Linked DNA regions of Homo sapiens. The protein of the gene in region 1 interacts with the protein of each later gene in a biochemical or structural test. Each region holds a gene or a part of one and is shown in the gene's direction. Other genes may lie near its edges.

Evidence for each region.
Region 2: the proteins of ATN1 (region 1) and MAGI2 form a complex in vitro, tested with the Homo sapiens proteins (one study listed by BioGRID).
Region 3: the proteins of ATN1 (region 1) and MAGI1 form a complex in vitro, tested with the Homo sapiens proteins (one study listed by BioGRID).
Region 4: the proteins of ATN1 (region 1) and NR2E1 form a complex in vitro, tested with the Homo sapiens proteins (one study listed by BioGRID).

The regions. Positions count from the first base shown.
Region 1 is NC_000012.12:6,923,035-6,930,960, forward strand, and holds the start of ATN1 (atrophin-1), read left to right. Parts: upstream 1-4,924; 5' UTR 4,925-5,350; intron 5,351-5,466; exon of another isoform or gene 5,467-5,708; intron 5,709-7,926. UniProt on the Homo sapiens protein: Transcriptional corepressor. Recruits NR2E1 to repress transcription. Promotes vascular smooth cell (VSMC) migration and orientation. Corepressor of MTG8 transcriptional repression.
Region 2 is NC_000007.14:78,120,662-78,127,681, reverse strand, and holds part of MAGI2 (membrane-associated guanylate kinase, WW and PDZ domain-containing protein 2), read left to right. Parts: intron 1-265; coding exon 266-485; intron 486-1,844; coding exon 1,845-1,988; intron 1,989-7,020. UniProt on the Homo sapiens protein: Seems to act as a scaffold molecule at synaptic junctions by assembling neurotransmitter receptors and cell adhesion proteins. Plays a role in nerve growth factor (NGF)-induced recruitment of RAPGEF2 to late endosomes and neurite outgrowth.
Region 3 is NC_000003.12:65,426,902-65,433,921, reverse strand, and holds part of MAGI1 (membrane-associated guanylate kinase, WW and PDZ domain-containing protein 1), read left to right. Parts: intron 1-3,040; coding exon 3,041-3,223; intron 3,224-3,781; coding exon 3,782-4,402; intron 4,403-7,020. UniProt on the Homo sapiens protein: Plays a role in coupling actin fibers to cell junctions in endothelial cells, via its interaction with AMOTL2 and CDH5. May regulate acid-induced ASIC3 currents by modulating its expression at the cell surface.
Region 4 is NC_000006.12:108,161,271-108,169,026, forward strand, and holds the start of NR2E1 (nuclear receptor subfamily 2 group E member 1), read left to right. Parts: upstream 1-4,751; 5' UTR 4,752-5,495; coding exon 5,496-5,520; intron 5,521-6,752; exon of another isoform or gene 6,753-6,756; coding exon of another isoform or gene 6,757-6,892; intron 6,893-7,756. UniProt on the Homo sapiens protein: Orphan receptor that binds DNA as a monomer to hormone response elements (HRE) containing an extended core motif half-site sequence 5'-AAGGTCA-3' in which the 5' flanking nucleotides participate in determining receptor specificity.

The DNA.
Region 1 (7,926 bases):
TCTCTCTTCCCTCAGAAACTAGAAATGTGAATGAGGATTATTATAAAAGGGGGTCCGTGGAAGAATGATCAGCATCTGTGATGGGAGCGTCAGGGTTGGTGTGCTGAGGTGTTAGAGAGGGACCATGTGTCACTTGTGCTTTGCTCTTGTCCCACGTGTCTTCCACTTTGCATATGAGCCGTGAACTGTGCATAGTGCTGGGATGGAGGGGAGTGTTGGGCATGTGATCACGCCTGGCTAATAAGGCTTTAGTGTATTTATTTATTTATTTATTTTATTTGTTTTTCATTCATCCCATTAATCATTTCCCCATAACTCAATGGCCTAAAACTGGCCTGACTTGGGGGAACGATGTGTCTGTATTTCATGTGGCTGTAGATCCCAAGATGACTGGGGTGGGAGGTCTTGCTAGAATGGGAAGGGTCATAGAAAGGGCCTTGACATCAGTTCCTTTGTGTGTACTCACTGAAGCCTGCGTTGGTCCAGAGCGGAGGCTGTGTGCCTGGGGGAGTTTTCCTCTATACATCTCTCCCCAACCCTAGGTTCCCTGTTCTTCCTCCAGCTGCACCAGAGCAACCTCTCACTCCCCATGCCACGTTCCACAGTTGCCACCACCTCTGTGGCATTGAAATGAGCACCTCCATTAAAGTCTGAATCAGTGCACTGTTGTGTCTAAGGAGTCTTACTCTAGTCCCTATGAGGGGAGAGAAGATGGAGCACCTGGAAGCTGGTGAAACTGGATAGCAGAGCTGGGGGGGCACAAAAAGAGGAAGACAAACTGAACAAATATGGCCGAGATGATGGCACTGCCTACCCCATTCTGGCTAGGTGGGGTGCATGTGGCCCCTGCTTTCTTAGCAGAAGGCTTGGCTCCCAGACGCAGGTGAATTAAGGGGTTCAAGAGCCCCTAAAAGCATAAAATATTTTGTGTGTGTGTGTGTGTGCACGCGCATTTTGGGGGAAAGGGGGTCTAAGGTGTTTTCATATCCAAAGGGCTTGTGGACTGGAGCAGCTCCTGTACTGGGCCTCTGCCAACAAAACCCTGGCTGGTTCTCGAATGGAACAGGACTTCATGGCCATCACCCACTGCAAGATGGGGAAATGGGAAGGAAGAATGGTTCCGGGGGTAGTATACGGAAGGACCTAAGGAAACAGAGTCCTCAATAAACTGAAGATTCAGGAACAAAAGTGCTTAACAGAACCCTGGCTGGGTCAGACTAACAGTAGGTTTCCAATATGTGGCTAGAGACGTACTACTCCTTAGCTATAACTCGTTAACTCTTATGGGGCCTCAGCGTTGAGATGCTCATTCTAGGTACCCCCGAGGGGGACAAATCCCTTCCTAGTGGCTCGGATGCAAGGTTGCGTCCCACAGATAGGGTTTGCACATGGGAGATCTAACCACTAGAGGGAGTCAGAGTTTTGCAGGACGCCATACTGGACGCCAAGTGGGAGGAACTTCAAGGCTGTCCCCTGCGGGCCTCCCGCTCTGCTTCTGCGAAGGTCTGGTCCTGGCTCCCTCTGCCATCCTGCCCAGCTCCAAGGCTAAAATAGGTTCTAGTTCTGTATGGGTAGGGCCCATTTCTTTTCTTGCCCTCCTTCCCGGGTCCCTGACACCTCAGCCATTTTCAGTTCAAAGAGCCTCATGCCCCCTTTCCATTTCTGTGCCTTTTAGTTTCAGTGTGGGCATCTCATCTTTCCCTTTTCTCCTGGCGACCCTTTATGCCTCCCTTGGGGTTTCCTGTACTTTCCTCTGTGCCTCTCAGTTTTCTCTGGGGTCCCTGATACCCATCTTACCTTAGTAACTCCCAGACTGACCAGGACTATCCTAGTTTGAGCCTAGTTCCTAGCCTCTGTCCTTTCTTTCATCCCTCCTCACCAGGTCGCCTTCTCTGACAGTCTGGCCCCCCAACCCCCAAAGTATCGGGGTTGGATTGGGTTACAGCTAGCTCTGCCTGGGCCTCCCAGGCCCTTCTCTCCACTTTCCCTTTGTGCCGTTGCCTGGAGACCAATGGGTTGTGGGGGGCTGAGCCAGAGAGGGAGCTGGGGTGAGGGATGGCTGGGGCTGTGTGTGTGCGTGTGCGTGTGTGTGTGTGTGTGTGTGTGTGAGAGAGAGAGAGAGAGATGTCCCCTGCAGCTGGACTATAAGCCTGGCCCTCAGGTAGGGGAGGAATGGGAGAGGGTAGACAATGGTTTCTTTTGTGACTCTCACCATCCCCTATCCCCACATATGCCTAAATTTTTCTTTTAGTATCCATTGTAGCCCATTCCTTAGTGATTAAAAAACAAGGGAGAAGAGCTCAGCCTGGAAGGGATTTGGAAAGGGCTTGAGCCAAGGCCCAGTGGGAGACTGAACTGAGTGGTACAGAAAGAGAGGAAATGCCATGGGGAGAGAGGGTGAGAGGGAAAGGGGGAGCCCTGGAACAAAGTCAGGGGTGGGGAGGAGCAGCAGCTACCCTAGAGCAAGAGGAAGGGAGTCGGGGTGCACAGGGAGACAGGGAGCTGGCCTGGTCTCAGGGAGGCCCTGGGAGGAAGGTGTGCTTGGAGTGGTAAAGTGAGTGCCAACCAATTCAAGGGACTTCAGAGTGATGACTCATTCCCAGGCCAAGGAAGTGTTCCTGTTCCTGCGCCCAGTTCCCCAGTGCTCTGGAATCTTGTTTAGAGCTTTTGAGTATTCCCAGAACTTTGTTGAATCTGGCCCAAGGAATTGTGAGACAAAAATCTACTGAGCTGCTCCAGAGCTAACCTCCTTCCTTCCCTGAAGGCAGGTGGGATCTTGCCAATTCAGGGCCCACCCTTAGCCTCCAGCAAGACTGGCCCCACAAGTACCCGACCCCCACCCCAAATCTGGAGCTCTACTGAGGGCTCCTAATCCACACTCCAGCTCCAGCTCTTCCGGCTTGCCAGCCTGCCTCCCTCCCATTCTCTGGCCTTCCCAATTTCTGCTGCCAAAAATCACCCTGTGTCCTTTGTCCTGGGAGATGTTGCCGCTTGGTGGAGGGCCAGGAGGGAGCCCAGGAGAAGGAACTGGTGGTGGGCTGGCGGAGGTGCTGGCTTCACGGCCGGGAGCAGACTGACTGCCAGAGGCTACCTGGAGAGCAGGGGAGGGAGAGGAAGGGTTGGGAGGAGCCTGCAGTCTGTGGTGGGGACTGTCTCCACCTTAGAACAAGTGGGATTGAGCAACAAGGATACCCAGGGATTTGGGTCCACATTAAGCCCAGTCTTCACCCGACTGCTTCCCTGTGACCCAGGGGATCTTTAGTGATGACTTTCAACAGATTTGAGAAGGAAAATGGAGATGCCACTAGATGGAAGGCCTGAGGATGGTGTCTCACTCCTCCAAGCTGTATCCCTTACCTATCTACCCATGAGCTTGCCAGCAACCTCCCCCCGCTCCCACATCTGTCATTTCCTTTAACTGCCCTCGTTTCCCATCTCCATTTTTTCTTTTTTTTTTTGAGACGGCGTCTCGCTCTGTCTCCCAGGCTGGAGTGCAGTGGCGCGATCTCTGCTTGCTGAAACCTTTGCCTCCCAGGTTCAAGGATTCTCCTGCCTCAGCCTCTGAGTAGCTGGGATTACAGGCATGCGCCACCACACCCGGCTAATTTTTGTATTTTTAGTAGAGACGGGGTTTCGCCATGTTGGCCAGGCTGGTCTTGAACTCCTGACAAGTGACCCACCCGACTCAGCCTCCGAAAGTGCTGAGATTACAGGCGTGAGCCCCCGCACCGGCCCCATCTCCATTTTCTTTTCCCATCCATGATCTTTCCTCTTCCATACTGCCGCCAGCCATAGGCCTTGTTCAGCTTACATTTCCTTCCAATCTTCTTATCCCCCTCTTCCCCATTCTGCCCGCCCAAGTAAACCCTCCTCGGCTCTACTGGGAGCCCCCACCCCCAGGATCCAGCCAGCCCGGTGTCTCCCACCCTTCTTTCCCATCCAGAGCCCTCCTTTCTCACCCAGAACCTATTTTCCCTAGAATTGGCACCTGGGCCCACCTCGTTCATCCCTTCTTAAGGTTCCTCACGCGTTCCCTCCTCTCTCTCCTCACTGACGTTTCCTCTGGACTTCTCTCTCTCCAGCATTCCTTCATCCCCCCACCCCCAATTCTTATATTTATGACTCTTTTGTCAACACTAATCACCCCCAAAAGCTTTACTTTTTCCAGAAGCCCCATCTTTCTATATATGTCATCTTTTCAATTTTTCTCTCTCCTTATGACCCCAAACTTCCATCCCATTCTCTCTGATAATAGCCCCCAAACCCGTCTGGCTCCATCTCTGCCACAGATCCCTCACCCCAAGCTTCTCTCACTTCTCACCAGGCACCCACAAAGCCCCCAGGCAGCTCCATCTTTCCAATCCAATCCCATTATCCCAATCTCTACCCCAGGATCCCCCAAACTCCTCCCACTTCACCTCTGCCACAGACCCGCTCGCCCCCAAACTTCAGCCTCCCCTCATCTGCCCTCACCACCCACAGCCCCTCCTACCTAGCCCTCTCCCGCGCCGGGCCCGCGGGCTCCCCACATTCCGCCACGGCTAGCCCTCCCCGCGCCCCGGCCCCCTCGGCCTCGGCCTCGGCCAACTCGCGCTGCGCCTCCCCCTCTCCGGCTCCCCCTCTCTCCCCCCTCGCGGCTTGCCTCGCGCTCCCTCCCTCGCGTCTCCCTCCTGGCCCCTCTCTCCTCCGTTCCTCCGCGCTCCCTCCTTCTCCCTCTTCCTCCCTTCTCCCATCCCCCTCTCCCAGGCTCCCTCCCTTCGCCGTCCGCTTTCCTGTGCGAGTCGCCGGACGCACCGCCCAGCCCGTCCGCAGCCCCGCGCCGGGTCGGGGCCTCGGGCCGGGCCATTTCGGAGGGACCGCGGCTTCGGGGAGGGGCTAGGAGGGGGGAGAGGGAGCCGACTGCCGGGGAAGGGGCGGGGGCCGCGGGCGAGGCGGCCGAGGGGCCCGGGATCGCGCGGGTGCGGGCTGCGCTAGGCGGGCGCGGGCGGCGGCGGGTCGGAACCGCGCCGAGGGCCGGGCGGGCCGCGGGGCCGGGCGGCGCGGCGGGGGCGGGCGGCGCGGCCCGGGGCATTCCGGGCGGCCAGGGGGAGGCGGCGAGCCCGGGGAGGTGGGGAGCAGAGCGGGGATCGGGGTTTGCTCCGGGGGCCGGCGGGCGATTGGGGCCAGGCGGGGAAAAGGGGGGATGGGGGCCGCCCTCCGGGGGGGTCGGGGCCGCCGCCGCCGTCGTCGCGGCGGCGACTGAGGCCGAGAAGAGGAGAGGGGGGCGGGGGAGCTGCCGCCGCCGCCCCCCAGAGGCGCCGGAGCCCGGAATCCCGCTCGGAGCCAGCCAGCCGTCCCGAGCTACCAGCAGGTAAGGTCTGCGGCCGCCTGGGCCCCGGGCCCGCGGGGTTCTGTCCCGCCCGGGCTCCGGCCTGCGGCTCCCCACCCCCACCCCTCCCAGTTCCCCCTCCTGCCGCCGCCGCCTCCATTTGTTATTTTCCCAATCCCGTCCCCCCACTGCGGGCTCTGCCTGGCCTGAGGGCCGGGGGCTCAGGGGGTGGGGCCCGCCGAGGAGAGTCGGGGGCCAGGGTTTCGGGAGGATCGGGAAGGTGGGGAAGGAGGGAGGGTCTCCGGAGGAGGCCTGTGGGGCCAGAGGGTATCCGGGACCCGCAGACTCAAAAGAGGAGGAACATCGAGGCCGGGGTTGGCGGAGGAAAACGGGGGATGCTGTGAGTGGGGTTCCGGGCGAAGGCAGAATGGATAGGAGAGATGGCAGCGAGGTGGGGCATGAAGCCTCCAGGAAAAAGCTCCAAAGGACCAGAACACGGGTTCCGGAGCCTGGGGTTGGGGGCTTTAGGAATAGACGGGAAGTGGGAAACGGGAAAGGGGTGTGGTAGGTGGAAAGAGGGATTGTGGCTGATGAACCTGGGGGAGACGGAGGCTTGGGCAAAGAGAGGTCCATTTTTGAGAAGAGCCGGAGGTTTTCCAGCGTGGAAGAGGGAAGGCCATGTCTTTGTGACGGTTTTCATTCCCCTACTGCAGGTCACCTCTGACCCTGTTTTCCCTATCCCAGACATAGTTATTTCTTGGAGAGGGCACTGGGGCCCAGTAGTGTGGGTTATCCCAAAACTAGTGAGGAGGAAAACAGGAACACAGAAGGGGGAGTTGGGAAGAAAGGGGTTCTGGGAGGATGGAAATGGAGAATTGAGCAACCTTACAGGCACTCCAGGCAAGTTGCGACCTCCACCCTCCACCCTCCAATTTCCGGAGCGTCCGCTGCCCCTGGAGCTGTGATCTATATAGGGAGGCCTTAGTTACTGCTTTGAGCTCAAAGATCTCCCTTTGTGCATGGGCTTATTTTGACTAGGGTAGGTACCTTCAAGCTCCCTTACCTGAGGTGCTATAGGAGGGTAGGAGTTGCTTTGGCAACTGGGGTAGGGGGTAGCTGCCAGATGGACACCTGGGATGGTCTCTTGAGGGGCACCTTTTGCCACTGTGTTGCTATGGTAGTGATCCAGTGGGATGTCAGATTGGTTGGGGGGGCTTCGAATGTTTATTGGACCTCAGCCTGTGGCTGTCCTTGGGACTCTGGGCTGGGTTTTGGAGGTTGTTTCTGGATCTGTTGGTGGTTGGGAGTTTCCCCACGGTGTGCACCCTTTCATGTTGAAGTCTGTTGGAACAGGTAGATACGTTCCTTGCAGATCATAGGTGTTTCTCCAAGTCTCTCCACCTGGGCATGATGGGAGGATGAAAACGCTTCTGTTCAGGTTACACCATCTTTTGGCAGTTGGTTCTGACCTCTACCTCCCTTATTATGTTATTTTTTGTAGAGTTGTCTTTTTGCTTCTTTGCACTTTCTTTCATTTTCTAAAACTTGAATTCCTCTTTGAGCCTCCCTTCTTGAGTAACCCTTTTCCTCTTTCCCTCAACTAACCTTTGGCCTTCTTCCCTGACCTTGTAGAAATGGCTGGGCTCCCAGGCCCATCCCAGGTGAGGGTGGCCCAGGACAGAGGGCTGTGAAACAGCTTCATGCAGGGGAAATACTATAGAACAGGAGCCAGGAGACCTGTGTCTAGACCTGGCTGTGCCTCTGTGACCTTGGGCAAGTCACTTCTCTTTGAGCCTGGGCTTCATTGTTAAGATGAAGGGGCTATAGATGAGATGATCTCTGAGGCCTCTCTGAAGGTCCCGGATTCTCAGAAGGCTTAGGCCAGTGCATCGTTATCTGCTGGTCTGGGCTGCATTGTTATCTAGGAGTCACTTTGGACTGGTTTGTTAGTCTGGCAGGTCCAGAATGATGTTGGGGGCTGGGCCAATGATCCTGAAATTTAGCCTGCGAGCCCCTCCCAGAGAGCTTGTGACTCCACTGTATTCCTTCTGACATCCCATATTTCTCTCTTAATTTCTTTTCCTGTTCTTACTTAGGGGCTCTTTTTCTAGTTCTCACTTTCCTCCCAACCCAGTCTGGTCTTAATCATTTTCTTTTTAAAGTAAGGTAATGGCAGTGCGCAGTGGCTCACGCCTGTAATCCCAGCACTTTGGGAGGCTGAGGCGGGCGGATCACGAGGTCAGGCGATTGAGACCATCCTGGCTAACACGGTGAAACCCCGTCTCTAGTAAAAATACAAAAAAATTAGCCGGGCGTGGTGGCGGGCGCCTGTAGTCCCAGCTACTCAGGAGGCTGAGGCAGGAGAATGGCGTGAACCCGGGAGGTGGAGCTTGCAGTGAGCCGAGCCGAGATCGCGGCACGGCACTCCAGCCTGGGTGACAGAGTGAGACTCCGTCTCAATAAATAAATAAATAAATAAATAAATAAAATAAAGCAAGGTAATGAAGGTGAATGTGCTTAGTATGTGGCCAGATACAGAGTAGGTGCTCTGTAATATTAGTTACAGTGATTGCCTGCTAGGAGTGTAGGCTGGTGCTAAAACATGACCCAGGTCTAGA
Region 2 (7,020 bases), on another chromosome or scaffold:
GAGTGCTTTTTCACAAGGTTCTGGTTGAACCATCATTTTTACCTTGACTTCGTAAGGAGCCAAATAAAAAGCATACAATATGGCATTTGTCAGAGATTTTTAAATAATATTTAACCTTCTCATAATCCTGAGCATCCAACAGGACCACCGAGAGGAGTGGTTTGTGTGAGCTGTCATGGCTGGCCCACCTCTGGAGGCCGTGTGATCACTCTAGCCTCTTTAGAATGCAGAGTTACAAAAGCAAATCCCATTTCCATTGATTTAGTTACAGGTCGGAAGTGAAAGCAAGGCAAGATGTGAAACCAGACATCCGACAGCCTCCATTCACAGACTACAGGCAGCCCCCGCTGGATTACAGGCAACCCCCAGGAGGGGACTACCAGCAGCCCCCACCCTTGGACTACAGGCAGCCTCCCCTACTGGACTACAGGCAGCACTCCCCCGACACCAGGCAGTACCCTCTGTCGGACTACAGACAACCCCAGGTACCTCCTCCCGGAGAGCAGGGTGGGTCCTGACCAAGGCTTCCAGAGAACTGCAAGGAATGAAATAGGAGAGGCAGAGGAAAGAGTACCTGTCTGGGATGGAGAGCTGAAGTTCTATTCCTAGTTCTGGTAACATCGGGGTAACACCTGCATCCTCAGAAACATGCTGGATAAATAAATCTATTTCAGAATAAAGCAGGACAATAAATAAATATGGATAAATACATAAATAAATAGCGGATGAGTAGTAATGGAATAAACTAATCCCTGCTAATACTAGCTAACTCCTTGTACGTTTCCTTGTCAAAGTTTTAAAAATGCTCTAACCTGGGACCTCTGAGAGTGCTGCTAATGCAGAAAATTTTATAGATGCTAGCAGTGGAGGTATTTTAGGTCCATATTTTTTTACGTGGCCCCCTACCTGCCACTCTGTGATAAAGGGCCAAGCCCCTGTGCGTAAGAATAAGACCAGGCTTGGCTTCACAATCCAGAGTGTAGCGCCTGCCACAGCCAACAACTCTCTGTCTACACAACCAGTGTCACTGTTGTTATGATTATTTGTTGATGTGCTTCATGTCAACTTCCTTAACTTCTCTGAGATTCAGTTTCCTAAAGGGAGAGTCTTCCTTACAGGCCAGGATGAGGATTCAACATTTATGAAAAGAGTCTAGACCAGAGTTTGGTATCTAGAAAATATTTCCTACTTCGTAACTACATACCAAGATATAAATTAAGTACAATCTCAACTCTATCAGATTACATTGTGTTTTATTATGAATTGAAGATCAACTTTATGCCCAAAGATTTTAAGAATAGTGAAGATCAGAGAATCTTGGACATACTGCATTTTAGGTAAAAGAGAAATTGATTTTGTACATTCCAACTTGATATTCAATAGTCTGTGCAACTGAGAGATCTAATTATCAGATCCCACTAAATTTTACTTTTCTAATCAGCAAACTCTGTAATTTGTACACACACACACACACACACACACACACACCTGACATTTATTTATGGTGCTCAATAGCAGTGAATGAGAGAAGTAAAAGGAGAGATGATGTCACTCAGGCCTATCTGTAATCATTCCACGTTTGCCAAGTAAACTGATGAATACCAAAGTAAACAAGCTACACAGTAATTCTTTGATGACCAAGTAAACTGTGCTCTGGCCTGCTCAAACCTTTGGAATTTTGTCTTTCATTTGGGTAGTTTATGAAGCCAGATTACGACTTCTCCCAACATCATGTCATTTGGAATACATTAACTAAGAGACAGAAGGAGAACACAGAGACTAGCCACAGAAGCTTCTCTGATAACTAAATAATTATTTATTCCATTTTCTCCCCAACCCCAAAGGATTTTGATTATTTCACTGTGGACATGGAGAAAGGAGCCAAAGGATTTGGATTCAGCATTCGTGGAGGAAGGGAATACAAAATGGATTTGTATGTGTTGAGACTGGCAGAAGATGGACCAGCAATAAGGAATGGGAGGATGAGGGTAAGAACAGTCTCTTTTTATAGAATTGCTTAATTCTGAAAGAAAAACCGACTGTGGTATTGGAAGAGTACTGAAGCATGCTGTCAAGCGGGGTTGCTGTAGGTTTGCCCTCTTTCTAGTTGATGATGACCCAGTTTCTTAAAAGTCTGGCCACTTGCTATTTTATAATATCTCTCATTCTCATTTTTCTGCTTATGACCTTCTAATTGATTAACCTCAGTAAAGTACTATTTTTCTAAAGAGCAAATGAAAGAAATCTAAGAAATAGCTTGAAAAGGAAACATTATTTCTCCATAATTCTTTCTATGGTTTGATGATTCTGTTTTGATTAAGGTTGAATCTTTTGAAATTTATTTTTAGTTTTGTGCTTTTTCCCCCATATTGATTAATCACATGGTTTTGCGGGACTTTTAGGAAATTTTTCCTTTGTGTTGACTGGTCTTTTGGTTTGATACTGGGCAGACAGAAGCATTAGGAGTAAAAGGGATTTGGCTTCTTGGATACAGGTTGTTCTTAAAAATGACAGCAGGGGCCGGGCGTGGTGGCTCACACCGGTAATCCTAGCACTTTGGGAGGCTGAGGCGGGAGGATCACAAGGTCAAGAGATGGAGAACAACCTGGCTAACACTGTGAAACCCCATCTCTACTAAAAATACAAAAAAATTAGCCAGGCGTGGTGGCGGGCGCCTGTAGTCCTAGCTACTCAGGAGGCTGAGGCAGGAGAATCGCTTGAGCCCAGGGAGGCGGAGGTTGCAGTGAGCCAAGATCGTGCCACTGCACTCCAGCCTGGGCAACAGAGTGAGAATCTGTCTCAAGAAAAAAAAAAAAAAAAGACAGCAGCTAGAAATTTTCCAATTAAAGTTAAGAGTAGATTTTTTCATTTAATAATTACTTTGAGGCATCTGATTGATGGGTAACTGATTCTTCATTTAAGGGTATAAAACAAAGCTTGTTAACAATATAAAATATTAGTCTCTTTACTCTCTCTGTGTGTTTGTGTGTGTGTGTGTGTCGGTGTATGAATAAAATCTAGAATTTATTCTTGCCCTCCCTCCTGCCTCTTTAAGTTAATAAAGAAAAGCTGTGGCTTTGGGGTTCCGGAACCTCAGGTTCTTGTGCAGAGCCTCACCAACCAATTTTCCCTGATGGCTGAATCTGTTATTTCTACCACCAAGTCTGCATTTCTATGATACGCATTTCCAAGTCAGAGGATTATCCACAGTCCAAAAGCAGAAGGCATGCACATCATGTCTTTGTTTCTCCCCACTACCACAATCCTTTGACAGCTGGGAAGCATCCAAGTTGGAATTTAAACCCAGGCAGGGCTGACACCAGAGACTGGCAGCCCTCCCCGTGATCTAGCACCAGCCTCCTCTTACCCCGTCTAGCCCTGATTTGAAGATGGGCCTCCACATGGTTTCCTGGCTCTACAGCTTCCCTATAAGCCAGAAGGACACTTTCTTAACCTGCTATAAGGCCAGCTCACAAGCAGTTAAGTAAAACAAAATTAATCTTTCCAGTGCAGGTGAAACACAGTAGGAAGACCATGTGCAAAATGGCCAGAGCCCTGTGAGAGATAGAGACCCACGGTGGACTACAGGGCTGGTCTCTGTCGGTTACAAACAGTGGCCATGTATTTTCACAAGGGATCTAAATGACTCGCTGCTGGATATACACAGTACTCCCAAGGCAAAGAAGCCTAAATAGAGAAATACCCTTGCAGGAAAAGATTCCTCTTTCTTACAGAATTTAAGCCAGAGCAATGGTTCTCAGCACGGTTCCTGGCATCAGCATCACCTGGAAACTTGGTAGAAATGTAGATTCTCTAGCCCCACCCAAAACTGCTGAATCAGAAACTCTAGGAGTGGGGTCACCAGGCTATGTTTTAGGAAGCTCTTCAGGTGAAACTCTGAGGTTTTACCTTCCGAGGTTTTATTATAGATACCTGTGTCAACTGCAATCCAAAAATATTACATAAAATTTTTCAGAAATAAACAATTATAAATTTTAAATTGTGCAGCGTTGTGAGTATCGTGCTGAAATTTTGTCCTTCCCAGAAGGTGAAACAGCCCTTTATCCACACTGTAGATGCTACCTGCCCACTGGTTACTCAGCAGCCCTCTCGATTATCAGATTGACTATCATGGTATCGCACTGCCCGTGTTCAAGTAACCGTTGTTTTACTTAGTAATGGCCCCAAAGTGCAAGAGTAGTGATGCTGGCATTTTGTTATAATTGTTCTTTTTTTATTGTTTTTGATCCCTTGCTGTGTCTAATTTGTAAATTAAACTTTATCATAGATATATATAGGGAAAACAGTGTATATAGGGTTAGTTCTGCCTGTGATTTCAGGCATCCGCTGGAGATGTTGGAATATATGCAAGAGGTATGAGAGGGAGCTACTATATTCACTTTATCAAAAAACCAGTGGAGAGTAGCAAGTTTTGACTTTAATTATTATACTAGATGGTTTTTCAACATCAGTTAATACTGATGTATTAAAAGTTGAATAGATAAAACAAAACACAATCTGTGAATGCAGAAAATAAGGGGAATAATAAAAAGAGATATATCATTGTCACGTCTGCTTGCTTTTCTTCAGTCAGTCAAGAAGGCTGGTGTCATAAGAGAAACACAATGGACATTCAGATTTTAAGGAAAAGGATAATAAATTATTAGAAAATATTACTGGAGCTGTTTATAAAAAGAAGACTTACGTTTGTAAAATGGCCTAATAAAATTGGGAGGGATGAAATTTTCATAGCTAGTGAATAAAATCTCTGATACAAAGCTCCTAGGAATATAACCTAATTAAAAGCCAAAACTAAATAGAAAACACAGGCAAAAAATAATGAACATAAAAAATAATATTGGCAAAGCTCAGTAAAACAGGGAATGTAAGAAATCAGGAGACATTTGGAGGGAAAGAATAGAAATTCTAAGTGCTTAAATAAAAATCTGAGAGTCAAGTTAAAAGAGAAATCTGAAAGGAGATCGTTTGCTCTTAAAATGGTAAAATATTTTCCTGTTTCCATAAAAGTGTAATATAGTTCGCATTTCCATAAAATGTATTTTTATGATGAAAAAGAACATTATTTCATAACTTCATCACTTGCAGCTGGGTACCATTTGTGTATGCCTATTTAGCATCACATAAGCTTATTTATAAGATGGTTTACCTACTTTCTGAAACTCACATGATGCAAAAGTCTGCCTGCAATGGGCTTTGGAATGACTAAAACATTTTGTTCAACCAATCAATGCACAAAAAAATATCATTTGCCCATCTTTTTTTTAAAGGAAAAGCAACATTCCCTGAAATTAGCTTCTTCTAAATTTGTCACCTTTCCTTCTATAGACCAGATATAACTAGTCAATACAAAAGCATCTTGGTTTATATATTGTTTTTATTAAACATAAAACGATTTACAAGAATATTTCTAACATATGTAATAAGTGTAAATACTAACCATGATTCAAGGACCCATGAACCCATAGCCCCACTTAAAAAACAGAACATTACCAAGCTCCCATGATTTCATTCTCCTCCTACTCTCCAGCCCTCAGAGGGAACCACCTTCCTAAATAAAGCACTTGACATTTCTTCTGTTGTTACCACAGATGTGTGTATCTCTCAACTATAACCTTTAGCTTGGTGCACTTTGTGAACTTTATGTAACTGAACCATACTGTACATGTTCTTCTCTGTGGTTTGCTTTCTATATGTTATGTTCATGAGATTCATCCAAGGTTGGTGCATGAAGCTATAGTCCATTTATTTTTCACTGCTATAAGTTATTTCATTATGTGAATATGCTACAACCTATAATAATTATCTATTTTTCCATTTTATGGACATTTGAGATTTTCCCTGTCAATTTACACTTTGGTTGTTTCCAAGTTTGTTGTAACTCATACAATCTTTGTACATCTTTCCTGCTGTACCTATGCAAGACTTTCTCTAGACTAGACTAGATGCCTTGGAGGGCACAAATTTAACTTACCTAAGTAACACAAAAGTATTGTCCAAGGTGGTTTTACAAAGTTATACTTGTATTAGCATATGTAAAAAAGTTTTTCTTACTACACACACTCACAAGATTTGTACGTCAGACTTTTAAACTCTCATTCTGGTAGGTAGAAAATTATATATTTTAGATTTGGATTTGCATTTCTTGATTACAAATTCATATTCATCATTTTTTCTTATATTTATTAGACGTTCATGTTCTCTCTTAACTAAAAAATGCCTGTACATGTCTTTCCTCATTTTCTGTTGAATATTTCTTCATGTTGATTATAGAAATGCTTATATATTATTGGTGATCTTTTTCATCAATTAATGTGATACAGATATCTTATGCCAGCTTATGGCTTGCAGTTTCACTTTCTTTATGATGCTCTTTGATAATGAGAAAGTCTTAATTTTAGCGTAATTGGCTTAACCCTTTTTTTTTTTTTTATAGTTTCTGCTTTCTGTGTCTTGTTTGAGAAATCATTCTCCAAGACATGGTCTTAAACGTCTTCTCTTATATCTTCTTCTAAAAGTTGTATAGTTTTACTTTTTATATCTAAGTATTTAATCACCTACAGTTGATTTCTCTGTATGATATAAGGTAGAACCTCAATCTCAATTTTTCCATATGGATAACCACATGTCACAGCATCATTATTTTTTTTTTTTTTTTTTTTTGAGACGGAGTCTCGCTCTGTCGCCCAGGCTGGAGTGCAGTGGCGGGATCTCGGCTCACTGCAAGCTCCGCCTCCCGGGTTCACGCCATTCTCCTGCCTCAGCCTCCCAAGTAGCTGGGACTACAGGCGCCCGCCACTACGCCCGGCTAATTTTTTGTATTTTTAGTAGAGACGGGGTTTCACCGTTTTAGCCGGGATGGTCTCGATCTCCTGACCTCGTGATCCGCCCGCCTCGGCCTCCCAAAGTGCTGGGATTCCAGGCGTGAGCCACCGCGCCCGGTCCACAGCATCATTATTTAATGAGTATTTCTTTGTCCCACCCCCCACCAATCTGCAATGA
Region 3 (7,020 bases), on another chromosome or scaffold:
ACTAGTGGCTGCCATATTGAACAGTGCAGGTGCAGAGCATTTCCATCATCACGGAAAGTGCCATTAGACGGTACTGGTCTAGGGTATTTAAACACTAGTGTCAAGAAGTGACATTTCTTTCCCCTCCCCCCATCCTGGCAGGGAAACATGCACCTAAGGTTCATTCAGGTGCAGAGTTTTGGGCCAAGACCCAGAACATCCTGATCAGTGAGTCTAAGGAAGGAAGTGAAAATGAGTACATTTTAAAAAGCTACCCAGGGGATTTTCCCTGGGTAAGACACAACCAAGTCTTACCGCTGGTGACTGGTAAACAGAGGTTAGGATCTTAGAAAATTACATGTACCACAGGGCTGCAGCTGAGAGCTCCAAATTCCACTGCTTATGGGGTGAAAAGCGTTTCTTTCCAAAAGCTACATTAACTAATGATCCACCCATACGTAAAAAATAATAAAATGTGCATAAATGTGAAACCCTCTGATTTTCCTTCCCTTGTTAAACATTGGAAAAGGAAGTCAGTCGTATAATTTCAAAGCTCTGCTCATGTCTTTATTAAGTTAACATTCTCAGCACAAAATATGCTAATGTATTTTTTTTTAAGTAGATAAACTGCCAGGCACATTTTCACGTTTTCTAACTTAGCCTATAATAAGAGTGAAAAGCTCCAACAACCAAACACCTCTTTTCAGCCTTCTCAAAGACATGATAAATATCATTTCTGTGTGCTTTTATTTGTTCATTCATTCTCTCACTCAACAGAAATTTTTGGAGCACATAAAATGTACCAGACAATATTCTAGATACTTGATATACGTATAAAAATCCTCATGGAGCTAACATTCTAGTGGTTTTATGTACCTGCATATCAATGCCACTCATGCATGGGAGTTGGGGATAGTAAGAAAACCAAAGCAATAAGTAAGATGTATATTCTTTTGGAAGGTGGTAAATGCTAAGGACAAAAATAAAGCAGGAAAAAGGGATTGGGAATGTTGGAGGTACTGCAATTTTTAGTAAGGTGGTTAGGGAAGGTCTTGCTGCGAAGGTAATGGCTGTTGATGTCTCTGCATAACTGAAATGTGTTTCCCTTCAGGGCCCTGGAATGCCCTAGCAGCACCTGCTACAAGAGTGTAGGCCAGTCACCCTCCTCCCCCTAAAGTAAACTTTGGGGGTTATCTTACCTCACCTCAATTTCCATCTGATAATTGTCTTGGCAGCTGTCTCCCCAAAGCTCTTGGTGCAAGTGACACCACCCTCCCAACGCCTTGGCAGATGACTTTGCGTGGCGAATCCTTGTAAGTCTTGCCTTTCTTTAGCCACTATGACAGGGCTGTAGTTTGTCAACCTTCCAATAAGCTTTGGGACTGCGCTAGAGAGCAGGTTAGCGAAAGGACCTCTGATTGCAGGCAATTTAAAAGAGCCTTCTTTGCAAGAGCCAGAAACTTTTAAAATATGCAATTAAAAATTGTATGCATGCCCAGAGACCTTTTAAACTCTTTTAGATATAACTAACCAAAAATAACTTTCTTTCCTAGGTGCCAGGCTCCTAGTACAGGGGTGTAGGGGACTAATGTCTCCCTCTTTCTCTCTCTCTTTTTGTTTTGGATAACATTTTTGATAGAAAAGAAACAGGGCAGATGGAGAAGCTGTGTGTGGCAAGGACAGGGTATAAGAAGTAAGTAAAGTTAGAAGAGATGAAAGAAGCTGCTCATGAAATTAGGTCTACTACTTGGGATAATCAGAGAAGTTCCAGTAAGTTTCTCAATTACAGAGAAGTGCCTAGTAAAACCCAAAAGAAAACGTTTTGGTTTATGTTCAAAATGTTATTTGTGAATGTATCAAGAAAACTCAATAAAACCTTAGGTAGCATGTTTGGAAATAATTTAGCGATACCTCTATCTGTAAATTTATTTTATTTTTATTATTTTTTTGAGACAGAGTTTTGCTCTTGTTGCCCAGGCTGGAGTGCAATGGCGCAATCTCAGCTCACTGCAACCTCTACCTCCTGGATTCAAGTGATTGTCCTGCCTCAGCCTCCCAAGTAGCTGGGATTACAGGCATCCACCACCTCATCTGGCTAATTTTTGTATTTTTTTTTTTTAGTAGAGACAGGATTTCACTATGTTGGCCAGGTTGGTTTTGAACTCCTGACCTCAGTGCTCCACCTGACTCAGCCTCCCAAAGTGCTAGGATTACAGGCATGAGCCACCACACCCCCAGCCTAATTTATTTTAAATAAGACAGCTGAATTTGGAGCTGTGTGGCTACTGTTAGTAACTACTTAGTTTAGGGATTTTGTGTGTGTGTGTTGTGGGGGGGGTTTCTTTGTTTGTTTTTTTGGTTTGTGTTTTTTAAACAAATATCCTAAACTTGTTTTAAACAGTAATTCTTAGCCCTAGGCATGCGTTGGCTATATCACAAATTTAATAAAAGATCAGATAAATAGGAAAAAATCAGTTGAATTTAGAATTCAATTCAAAGTAATGACCCTTAATTTTGAAAATAGTCATTCTACATTTTTGTCAAATTATTATTTGTGACTATAATATGTTTTCTGGTATTATCTGTGCATTTTCAGCCTGGATTTTCCGTTTGATTAGTTCTGTTGGTTTTTCAAGTGGAAGCCAGGCCCAAAGCAGCACATCAGAAGCCATATAGCAAAATAAAATTAAAACAAAACAAAAGACATAAAACAGACCAGTTCCATTTTCTGTGAAGGGGTTTGTGGCAGCTCAATTCCTGTCAAAGTGCATGAATGGAAACCAAGAAGTGTGTCACCTGACAGGGACTAGTTTCATCCCTCTCTTGTAGTTTCTTTTGGACCCTGGAGTTGACATACTCAATGCTTTACCTCCCTCCATCAACACTGGGGCCTAGGAACATCCTTATTCCTCAAATTAAGAGAGGACTTTCTTAAGATGCTATATGCCCAAAGGCTCTAGGGCATAAGCGTGAAGAATTATCTATATGTTGTCTCAAATCTTGTTTAATTCTCCTTTTCACCAGTGGTGACATTCCTTATGCGTTTCTTATTTTAATCCAGGCAAACCCTTTTTTACACGAAACCCTTCTGAGTTGAAAGGCAAGTTCATTCACACAAAGCTGCGGAAAAGCAGTCGTGGCTTTGGCTTCACGGTGGTTGGAGGGGATGAACCTGATGAGTTTCTCCAGATCAAGAGCTTGGTCCTAGATGGTCCTGCTGCATTGGATGGCAAGATGGAAACAGGTAGCGTCAACATGGCCTTAGTGTGTTCTGTGTGGTGAGACTCCAATCCAGGAGATAAACATGTGCAATCATGATGTTGTTTGTTTGAGCAAGACCAAGCAACGTCATGATTGCACATGTTTACAGCTTTAAACACCTTGAGAATGAGCCAGGTCTCCACATTACATAAATTCATCCCTTGGGACAGATTAAAACCTGTGAAGTCATTTTAAGTTTGGGAAACTGTTTGAGTACAGTAAAGCAATGAGTTACTAAAACTGTAGATCCCCATTTAAATAAATGAATTCTAAACTTGGATTTCTGCAGTGAGATTTTTTTTTAGGAGAAAGCTCCAATGTTCTGTGAGTGATTATTACATTCTCATTAGCAGGGAAGACACTAGGTGCTGAAAGAACACTTTATTAGCTGTTAAAATCAGTAATAGAAGCACTTTATACCCTATAGTATCACACCCACATGCAGTTTCAGTTCAGCTTTATGTTAGTGGGAGATATTATAATACTGATGACAATTTTCTGGGTGCTGTTTTCTTAACCCCCACACTCTTGCCTTCTACAGGGGATGTGATTGTAAGTGTGAATGACACCTGTGTTTTGGGACACACACATGCTCAAGTTGTGAAGATCTTCCAGTCCATCCCCATTGGTGCCAGCGTGGACCTTGAACTCTGCCGAGGTTATCCATTGCCTTTTGATCCAGATGACCCCAATACAAGTTTAGTGACCTCGGTAGCCATTTTGGATAAAGAACCAATTATTGTGAATGGGCAAGAGACCTATGATTCACCAGCTAGCCACAGTAGTAAAACAGGCAAAGTCAATGGCATGAAGGATGCCAGGCCAAGCAGCCCAGCGGACGTGGCTTCAAATAGTTCTCATGGTTATCCTAATGACACTGTTTCTTTGGCTTCCTCCATAGCCACTCAGCCAGAACTCATAACTGTTCATATTGTCAAAGGGCCAATGGGCTTTGGTTTTACTATCGCAGACAGTCCTGGTGGGGGTGGCCAAAGAGTGAAACAGATTGTTGACAGCCCAAGGTGCCGAGGCCTGAAAGAAGGGGATCTCATAGTGGAAGTTAATAAGAAGAACGTGCAGGCCCTAACTCACAACCAAGTGGTGGATATGCTGGTTGAGTGTCCTAAGGGAAGTGAGGTCACATTGTTGGTGCAACGAGGAGGTAAGTAGGGTTGTTTTGTTCTTTGAATTTTTTTTTTATCCCAAATTCATTGCTTAACTTACTCATCTTCAGATGACCACTGGGGGCTTTTTAAATTTATTTAAATGTTTCAAAATGCCTACTGATTTCTCCAAATACTAACCTCTTTAGCATAAAAATTGTGGTTTATACATTATGACAGACATATGCAGTTAGAATGATACCTTAAAACAGAAATCAGATTTTGCCTTTTTAAAATGTTAAGATTTAAAAACCTAAGTTGGGTGTGGTGGTACCCACCTGTAGTCCTGGCTGCTTGAGAGGCTGAGGCAGGAAGATCACTTGAGCCCAGGCATTTGAGTCCAGACTGGGCAACATATTGAGACCCCATTCTCTAAAAAGTTTTTTTATATATATATAAAAAATAATAACCTTTATCCTTTAAATCTCCTGAACTTGGCCTGCATAGCCTGCAAAATGTGGCTATGGTCACTCCAAACTTGTCTCATGTTCCTCTCCTCCATCTGATGGTGCTTTAGCCACACTGGCTGCTTTTATGGAGCTCCTTTAATGCTTCAAGCCTTTTCTTGCCTCAGGCCCTTTGTATTTACTGTCCGTTCTGCCTGGAATGGTCCTTTCCCAGCTCTTCCCAGCTGGCTCAGTCCCATTCAGGTCTCCTTATGAGAGAGGGCTTCTCCCATCACTTTATCTAAAGTAGCTCCCAACACTTCCATATAATCTTTATCACAGTTTTTCATAACCTTGATCATCATCACCTTTTTAGCACAAGACGTTATTTCATGCTTTTATTTATTTTTCATTATTTGTCTTTCATTAGAATATAAAGCTCCATAAAGCCAGGGCCCATGTGTGCATGTGGACAGCTGTTATCCCCAGCATTTAACACAACACCTGACTCCTTTTAGGTATTTATGAATGAATAGGTATTAAGTGAATAGGTATGTGATTATTTCTATTTGGCAGAAACAAGAGGTCTGCTAATCATATTAAACACTTCCCTCCACATGCTCGCGTTTAGTAGTTTAGGATCTCAGAGATCTGGGTTATTCTAAATCTCGAGGCATTAAGCTTCCTCCTTTCTCCTTGAGTCCGTATCCCACCCTCTGCCTCACCAGAAAACACAGGACGTCACACTGAGCAATACTTTCCACCATATTGAAGTGTCTTGCTCCTGGAATATATACTTATATGTGATTAGTCGTGACTGATAGTTTTACACAGTGGGCCTGAGAATGGCTGTTTCCCTGATCCTTGCTACCATGATTTGTTTCATGAACAACATATTCAGGCCTTTTGAAAAGAGATCAAGAACCAGACTTTGACTTCCTTTTGGTTTGTTGCAACAGGAGAGCTCATTTGTGTCACAGCAGCCAGATTCTCATGTTTTCATGAACCTGTGTGTTCTGCGATCAGAATGGCTGGGGTCATTTGAAGGAAACCCAAAATACAGAGTAGCTGTCTATGTGAATTGAAATGCTCAATGAGCCTGGCTTAGGCAGTTATAAAAGGCATTGTGCAAATTTTATTTTTTTTAAAATGTCATTTCCACCAACTAATTTTCAAGTCTCTTCTTGTACCTAGATCACTTGACTGCTCAGAGAACTGGTTTTAAACAGTAGCCAAGATGTATGTAGTAGGAAATGACTTGGGTATAAGAACGATTATGACAATAATGATGATGGTGATGATGAAACCTGGCACTTATAGAAGAATCAGTGATACACAAAGCACTTTCATACCTGCACGTGCCTCTCCACTGATATTTGTCACTTCCCTGTGAGGTAGGAAGGTGCCACCCCACAGTAGTTCTGAGCTGTTCACCCTGGCTCTGTGGTTTCCAGTCCAATGTTCTGCCCTACTTAACTGAATAACACTGATTTTTGTATAGTTGCTTAATACTGAGGCTGACAGCCTGGAAACTTTCAAATAATTCTTGGTACATCAGGTGCACCTCTGATTCAGCCACTGCTCATTTGACAGACACAAACCACCTTGTTCTCCTAACTCATCTATCCTCTTTCTCATTTCTGTTATTGATGTGGTTTATTATCCCATTAGATTCACTTCTAAGGAGACCAAACATAAAGTTTCATTATAGCCAACTAACTTACACATGTATTAGAACCATATTGTAATGAATTCGCCTAAGCCAGCAAACAACTGATTATAGAAACGTACTCCTTGATTTTATTTTTTATTTTTATTTTTGAGACAGGGTCTCACTTTGTCACCCAGGCTGGAGTGCAGTGGTGCCATCTCAGCTCACTGCAGCCTCAACCTCCTAGTTTCAAGCGATCTTCCTGCCTTAGCCCCCCAAGTAGCTGAGACTATAGGTGCATGCCACCACTCCCGGCTGATTTTTGTATTTTCAGTAGAAATGATTTCTCCATGTTACCCATGCTGGTCTCGAACTCCCGCGCTCAAGGGATCCACCTGCCTCGGCCTCCCGAAGTGCTAGGATTACAGGCATGAGCCACCACACCTGACTATACTCCTTGATTTTAAATATGTTTGCATTCTCTCTTCTTAATTCCCAATGCCATCTTCTCATTAATGGTGTTACATTTTATAACATTTATATGAAAAATCCGGAATATATTGCCATATTCATCAACATC
Region 4 (7,756 bases), on another chromosome or scaffold:
ACTGTGTAATTCACAGGAAATTAGGAGGCTGAAGAAAGCTTGGCAGCCAGTATCTCCCTGGATGTAGTCTGTGTTCTGCTTTCTTGTTTCTCTAGTCATTCTTTTGTTTTCAGAAAGCCAAAAATGACCTGCACTGCTTCCCAAGGTTTGGAGATTCAGAGGACCTGTCCCTGTTCCCTTCCTACCCCATTGCTGGGGCTGAGCAAAAATGAGCCCTTCACCTCAAGCTTCAGTAGCTTTCATTGAGTATCATCAGGCAGGTTCACTCATACATTCCACATTTACAAAGCACCACTATGTGCCAGGGTGCAAGGGACTAGAAAGATGTTTCTACTTGATTATTCTTGGAGCCAGAGAATGTCAAGATGCAGCGGGACTCTAGAAGCCTCGGAGTCTCAGCCTGACTTTAGAACTGAATTTTTGTCCAACCAAGGGTGTGAATAAATGCAAAGACATGACTTGTTATTTGTTAAGGTTGTGGGGTGAGGGGGGTGGTCACACAGAGCATTGTCTCCTTGTTGTTAGCAGCGTTCATCTTCCTACTTGTGGGGAGTAACAGACTACTTTTGGCAATACAGTGCTCAAAAGTGTCAAGAAAAACCCTGCAACTCAGGACCCACTGGATTCTAGAGAACAAGCGTCTCTTTTCTGGATTGTTCTTGTTTATTTGGGGGGTAAATTTGGATAAGAATCAAACAACTTGTAGAGAGATCCACAGCAGAATCAAGAGCAAGCCTGCAAACACTGTTTCTTTCATTTGGCACTTAGCAAGCACCTACTATGTGCCAGACACTGCTCCATGACCCACCTCCTCTCTCACCATCCACTGGGCAAACAACAGCCATAGGTTGAATTATGATGTGGAAGCAAATGCAAATCAACTTCCTCCTTCATATAAACAAACAAACAAACAAACAAACAAAAACTTGTGTCAGAATGTTTTTGGATACTAAACATCAAAACTCAGCCAAGCTCAGCTGGTAGGTTTTCCCAGCGATTTCCTTGGTCTGAGCATCTCTTAACTCTGCATATCGGTAAGGGGAATGGTATTTTAAAGGAGTGACTCTCTAGAGGTTGAATGGCCTCTGTGAGGGGTCGATCACAGGGGATTGGGGAAGGGGTCTCTTTAACACCAATTCCATCAGCTCTGCTAGCTGATGGGAAAGCTTGTCCTTTCACCTTCGGTATTTTAATTTAGAAGAATGTGTGTGTGTGGAGGGGGTGTTAATGGAAAAAATGTCACCGTTTTTAGAGAAGCTAGTGAATGGCAGGGCTAGCAGTCAACCTCAGATAGTCTGAAACTTTGAGGGGTGCTCTGTACCCCTGCCTCTCTCATACAACCTAGTTAATAGGATTCTCTTTAACAGGGCACTAGCAGAGGAATGAGCTATAATACAATACAGTCCTCAGAGGACTGTAGAATCAGTAGATTCTCCTAACACAAGGCCAGCTTTCCAGGGCAATTCTGGACAGCCTATGTCACCGCACACTGGTTTAGGGCTCCTTGTATATATCTCCAGTGTCCTGTGTTTCATCCCAATCTAAAACATTTATCATCTTTTATGTGTCTGCTCCCTGCTACATGGAGAAAGGAGTCATGTCATTAATCTGCTATATCCCCAGGGTCTGGCATATAGTGGGTGCTCAGTATTTGATGAGTGGGTAGATTGATGGATGGGCAGAAATACCCCTTGATCCATGGTCCTCTCATGATCTTATTTCCTATCTCTTGGACCAAAATGTAAACATCCTTCGATAAAAGAACCTTCCCTGCGTTTTAGGCTTTGGTTTTGGTTGAGAGCTCCATACTCACAAGCGCCTACAGAGGAAATTAGGGGCTATGTCTGAACCTGTTTAGAAGGGTTTCAGAACCTCTGAGGGTGTGGCTATCCCCACCACCTTCCAAAGCAATAAACTTATCCTTGTAACTTAAGGTCTTGTCTCTGTTAAAAGATAATTCTGAGCCAGATGGCATTTGCCCCTTATCAATCATTTCCTTTAATGGACTCACAGGAAAAAATCTTTGAAAGTTAAGACCGAACAGGGTGAGAATCCTTTTACAAATAACAATCTGGAACCCAGAGAGGTCTAGCCACTCGCCTAAGGTCACACAGCTTGTTGGCACAGCCCTGAATCCCTATCTCGTGGTTTCCAGCGTTTAGCCTGGCTGTGCCTCCAGTGGCCCCTCAGGGCATCTGCAGGTGACTTCCCTTCATTTGCCCAACATTTATGCAGCACCTACTATGAATCAGGCAGCATGCTGGGGCCTGTGGATAGAAAGATGAAGAGCCATAGTCTTTGTCCTGCAAAGGCTTTCTTCTCTGAGCTGTACCCATGGTAGCCCCAAGTTTCTACGCCTTAAATCCGAGGTCCCCCGTGGCCTGCAGCAGCTTTGCCTGAGTAGAAGGCAGCCCGCACTAAGGCTCCAGGCTTATTTGGGACCTGGTGGGCGACGGGGCCTCAGCCCCTCCCGCCTACCCTGGAGCTTGTTGCCGCCGTTACCACTGAACCAGTCATGCCAGAAAGTCATCACGATGATTTCAGAACTGTATTGTGATTTATGCAAAGCGCGCCGATAATTACAGCCGGGCGCACAGAACACAGGATGCATATGCTGCGGGTGTGTGCGCGCAGTGTTGTGCCTTTCGCCAGGGCTGAATGGGGTGTGTGTGTATTCCGTAGGCATCTTCTTGACACCATGCTTGATCGGGGACTGGTGACAGGAAAAAGAGGGAAGATACCCATTTTGATTTTGAGACAATTTGATGAGCCTTGGGAGTATTTTCCAGAAGTTTTGGTGCCTACAAATGAGCCAGCCTGGCAGGAGCGTTCGAGAGTAGGGGAAGAGGTGGTTTGGAGCCCAGGAAAGCCATCGTCCAGCCCCCGCACAGGCAAAGCAATTAGTAGTTCTCCTTCTCGAAACAGACCCCTAAATGCTTCCCCTGCAGACAGGCCTGGGTCTAGTCATCACCCCCCACACTGCCCTCATCTTCGCCCCAGATAAATTAGTTCCACCCTTGAAGTTCTTTGTCCTGAACCAAAGAACCCCATAATCGCGTCCGCGTTATGGGGGTGGTGGTGGTAGGTGGCTGAAGCAAGTGGATTTCTGGCGTGAACCAGAACCTGAGGATTCCAAACGGAGCCTGGCATCTTATTGTGTTTCTCAAATCCTGCCCGAAATTCCTCCCCTCTCTGGGCGCCGAGTTCGAGAAAGCGCTACGCCGCCGGTCGGGCTAGCTCCACAAGCGGCTGTACAAGTTGGCTGTCAAAAAACGCTGATTTCTCCTCCTGTCACCTAATAAACCCCTACGCGCTTATGGCCTCGTCCCACAATCCCCCAATCTCGTCCCAATTCGAAAAACCGAGGAGGAGGGAATAAACTGAGAGATAAAGATCCCCCCATCTTGCTCTTTCCCCGGGACCCCAGCCTTGGTCGCGGCGCCCCACTAAGGAGGACACAGGCTCTGGTGTGTGTGGTGTGCGAGACCCCGAGCTCGAGGCCGAGCCAAGGCTGGGCAGAAAGTTGCAATCACGTGCTGTCGGAGCCCACTGGAGCGCACAGCCCGCTCCCCCTGGGACGCCCAGGCGGAGGACCTGCTGCGCCCTCCCAGGGCTCGGGGGACTCCAGCATTCACTTGCACGCACAGGCGAACTCTGATTGAAAGCCCGGGATGACACCGAGTCTGGAGAAAGAGGGACCGGGGGGTGGGCTGGCGGAATTGCAGAGCGCCGGCCACAGCTCCCCTCCCCGCGAACGTCGAGCGGAGGGCGGGAGGTGTAACCTCTGACCTCTGGCCGGGTCCACGCCCTGAGGAGGGACTGGCAAGCTCTTGTTCGACAAGTTCAAGCTGCCGAGAGAGCTTAAATAGAATTAATCTCTTAGAGATCGGGGATCATCGCTCCCTCGGCATGCGCTCTCCCAGCGCCGCGCACAGAGCAAGGCGCGAGAGAGCTCAGGAATCGCGGGAAGGCAAGCGGAATGGGGAGGGGGTAGGGGATGAGGGCCTCTCTTCACTATTCCTCCGCCCGGAGAGCGGGAGCCCGCAACGCCCGCCGAGGACGAGCGGCGGGAGGGAACGCTCTGCCCTCCAGCCGCCCCGGTGCAGATAATGGAGGCGACAAGAGATTCGCTCAGCGTCGGATGGGCCAGCTCTGCTTGGGGAAGCTGGCGGCATCCTCCCCTCGGCTGGTGCCCAAACCCACTGCGCGAAGGCCGAAGGAACGCGGAACCTCCAGAAGACCCCATCCTCAGCCCTGACTTTCCGTAGATATGTGCAAAATGAGTAAATTACTCACCTCGGGCCAGATCCAAGTTTTACCCAACAGAAGGGGCACCGGACCAAGAATGAACCAACTCACATGGCCATGTCCGGCGCGCACAATCACACGCCAGCACACAGCCACCCAATTTCTTCCGCGAATCTATCTGGCACTCTGGAGAGAGGGGGAAAAGCGTTTTGAGAAAGCCCCGTCACCCCTCCCCTTCCTTCTTGCCGTGAAATATACGAATTCATTTTTATTACGAGCCGCACCGTCCTCACCATCACGCACGCACAGAGCCACACTCCCATATTCACACTTTCTAACTCGTAAGCTCCGACAGCGCCTGCATTTTCTTTGGGAGCCGCTTGGAGGTTCATTAATATCATTAGCATTTAACCCCCTCCCTCTTCCCATCCCCTCCCCGCACATGGCTGACGTCAGACCCCGCCAGGAGTTGGGGGAAAAGCTAAGTGGGCCAGGGACGCCCTATTCCCCTCCCCGCGGCTGCCTGTCAGAGCGCTTCTGGAGATATTACAGGGGACCCAGCCCGCAGCGACAGGCACAAAGTCACGGGGTAATGAACTTCGGGGACCCTTCGCCGCTGCGTGCGCGGCTCTCCCCGGAAACCCGGACCTGGCCGCCTCTTCCCTCGGAAGATTTCCCAGCAATCTAGTTTTCCCACTCTGCGCTTGGGTTCCGGCAGCGCGGAGCCCGTCTGCCTCTGAGACTGCGGTAGTGTTTTCCTTCTTTCCTTGGGAGACCAGCGGTCGGCAGAGATTGCCCACACTCTGCATGCCTATGTAGAGGGAGAGATCGAAGACTGAGTGACAGGAATGGGGAAAAAGAGGGATTTCGCTCCGTAGGAAGGCCATTTTCGTGTCTCCATCTCTGTCTTTCAACATCCCTCTCTTGCTGTTCTTCCTTCTTCCTCAGTCTTCCTGTCCATCTCTCCATCTGTCTGTCCATGTGTGTGTCCATATCAAGCAGCATTCCCAGCAGCTGCGGTTTTGCAAGAGCCGGGAAGAAACTTAAGGATGCTTAAATTTCCACTGTTGGACGAATTCTGAGCGCCCAGGGAGCAGCGCAGCGCGCGACTGACACCCACCTGTCCCGCCCAGGAGCCTTGCAGGCTGGAGGGCAGCTGGAGAGCGGCGGCGCCCGGCGGCGAGGCGGGCGCTGCCGGCCGGGACTCGGGCAGCGCCCACCAACCGCTCCGCCCCGGGACAGCCAGCATGAGCAAGCCAGCCGGATCAACAAGTGGGTACCTCTCGGGCCGCCGTGGGGCCTAGGCGCGCAGCCTGGGGCGAGCGAGCGGGGAGGCTGGGGGAGGTCCTGCCTGGAGCGCTGCGAATCTGAGCCCCTGAGAGGGATTCCAGCGGGCGTGTGCGTTCGGCCCAGACCTGTAGACCGTGAGTTGGAGCATTTCGTGGAGAGGGGAGAGCCGTTTCGTTGCCTCTGGATTGCTTGATCCCCCCTGTCTGGTGCGGTGAGAAGGTTACGACCCGCGCAGCCCACCAGTCGGATGAGTTGTCTCCATTTAGCCGCCAGGTGCTGGATGGGGGGGCCATGGGGGCGGGAACTGGGCCGCAGCTCCAGGCGGTAGCACAATAACACACTCGCTCAAAACTCCGAGCTCCAGCGCGCAAAAGCAACTCTGTGCAAAGCGGATTTTGAATGGAATGCTTTGCACCCCGTTTCTAGCTATTTCAAATAATCCTGCAAACTGGGAAGCAGAAACAATTTAAAAGTCACATTTTCCTTAATCCTAAATCCGCGTAGGTCATAACTGGGGAATTTAAAGTATGGCGAACCACTCTAGCAAAGAGAGGACCAAATCCCTAATCCCAAGGACTTTTCGAGCCGGAGCCCAGCAGAGGCAGGAGTGCGCGGCCTGCTCCCTCCGTGCGCTTCTCTCCTTCCTCGAACTTCCTTAGCTGCCGGCTCTCCGAACGCCAGGCCGCAGCTGACCTCTCACCACCCCGAGACTCACGAGCGCAGGGCTAAGTGTGTGTGCGAGGGCATTTGCTTGCACCCTGCCTGCGGAACCCAAGAATGTGCAGGCCCGAGCCAGCGTTGAGCAGGCGCGGTCACGGTGCTCAGATCTCCCGGGGGCATTTCAGTTCCCGCCATCCAGTGGCCCACGGCTGCGGGCTCCAGGGTCTGAGGCTGGGGACTACCGTTGCCGCCGCAGTCCCCATATCCCGAAGTTGCCTTGCTGCTTGTGTTGTTTTCGCAGATAGCATTTTTGGCGCTCTGTGCGTTCCTTCCCTCCCCCTCCCCCTTTCACTCGCCCTCATTGTCCTGAGTCTTTGAAAGTTGGGAGAATCGGAGATACTTCTGAGGACTGGTAATGAAGTCTCACTTAAGTGGGATGCAATTCCCGCCCTCCTACCCCCCTCCAAGAAGGAGGTTGTGTTTTCATTTTGTTTTGCTTTGGGTGCTGACCTTTAAAAAATTAGAGCAAAATGAACGTGAACAAAAAGAAAAGGAGAAATGTTTCGAGCTGGGGCAGAGGGAGCAGAGAAGGAGCCCTCACCGCGGCCGGAATGCAGAGCGGACCCTGGCCCAGGACTGGGTTTCCCTTTAGGCTCGGGCCTACCCTGGCCCTCGCTGTTGGAATCTCCAGGAGGTAAAGCGACCTCGATTTTTGTTGCCCGCATTCCCGGGCGTGAGTGTCCTTCCCAGGAGGCTCAGGAGGCCGTTTCTGTTGCATTCTGAGCCTCCGTTGCAAAAACTGAAGCCCGTGGGTCTCGGCAGGCCTCCTAGCTCGCTCGCCCCGGGACAGGCCCTCGCCTACACCCCTGGAAGTAAGGAGCCCCGGGCTCTTTCGTCCTTTTCGGGGTGTGGAGCCCCTGGGGCCCTTGAAAGGTGAGGCCTCAGAGGCGAGGGAGGGGTGAGCGGGGAGCTCTGCCCGCCTGCGGCTGCGCCCCCGCTGTGGACTAGGAGGCAGGCCAACCCTCCGGACTTTGGGGGAAAAACCACAGCGGGCTCCTTGCGGAAACTTTGGCCGTTCTAACTTGCCAAGAGCCTGAGTGAGGCCTTGGAAGCCTCCAGCCCCGGCTCAGGTCGGGACGCGGCTGCTGAGCTTTCTCAGGCCCGCAGGACAGCGGCCCCCGCCGGTGGCGCCGCTGCATTTAGGCCCTTTCCAGACCGGTGGCGGCAGCCAACCCGAGACTTGCGTCCCTCGGGCCCGGGGCAGCTAGGAGGTCGGCGCGCAGCGGGCCGGGTCAGGACTGGGTCGAGCAGACAGAGCTGCAGCCCCCGCCTTGCCCGGCTTCTCGCGGCTGGAGAGCAGAGCGATGTCACCCGGAGCCCCGCCTGGGTGGTAACGAGACCCTGGCCAGTCACCCCTGCAGCCCAGACTAACTTCTTTCAACAGCCTCTGATGGTAATTACAGTAATCGAAGCTGCCATATATCTTTAGGCAATTATGACACACAAAAAGCCCCGAGGGGACCCCCTGGCGAGGGAAGTTAAGAACGGTTTTCCAGCT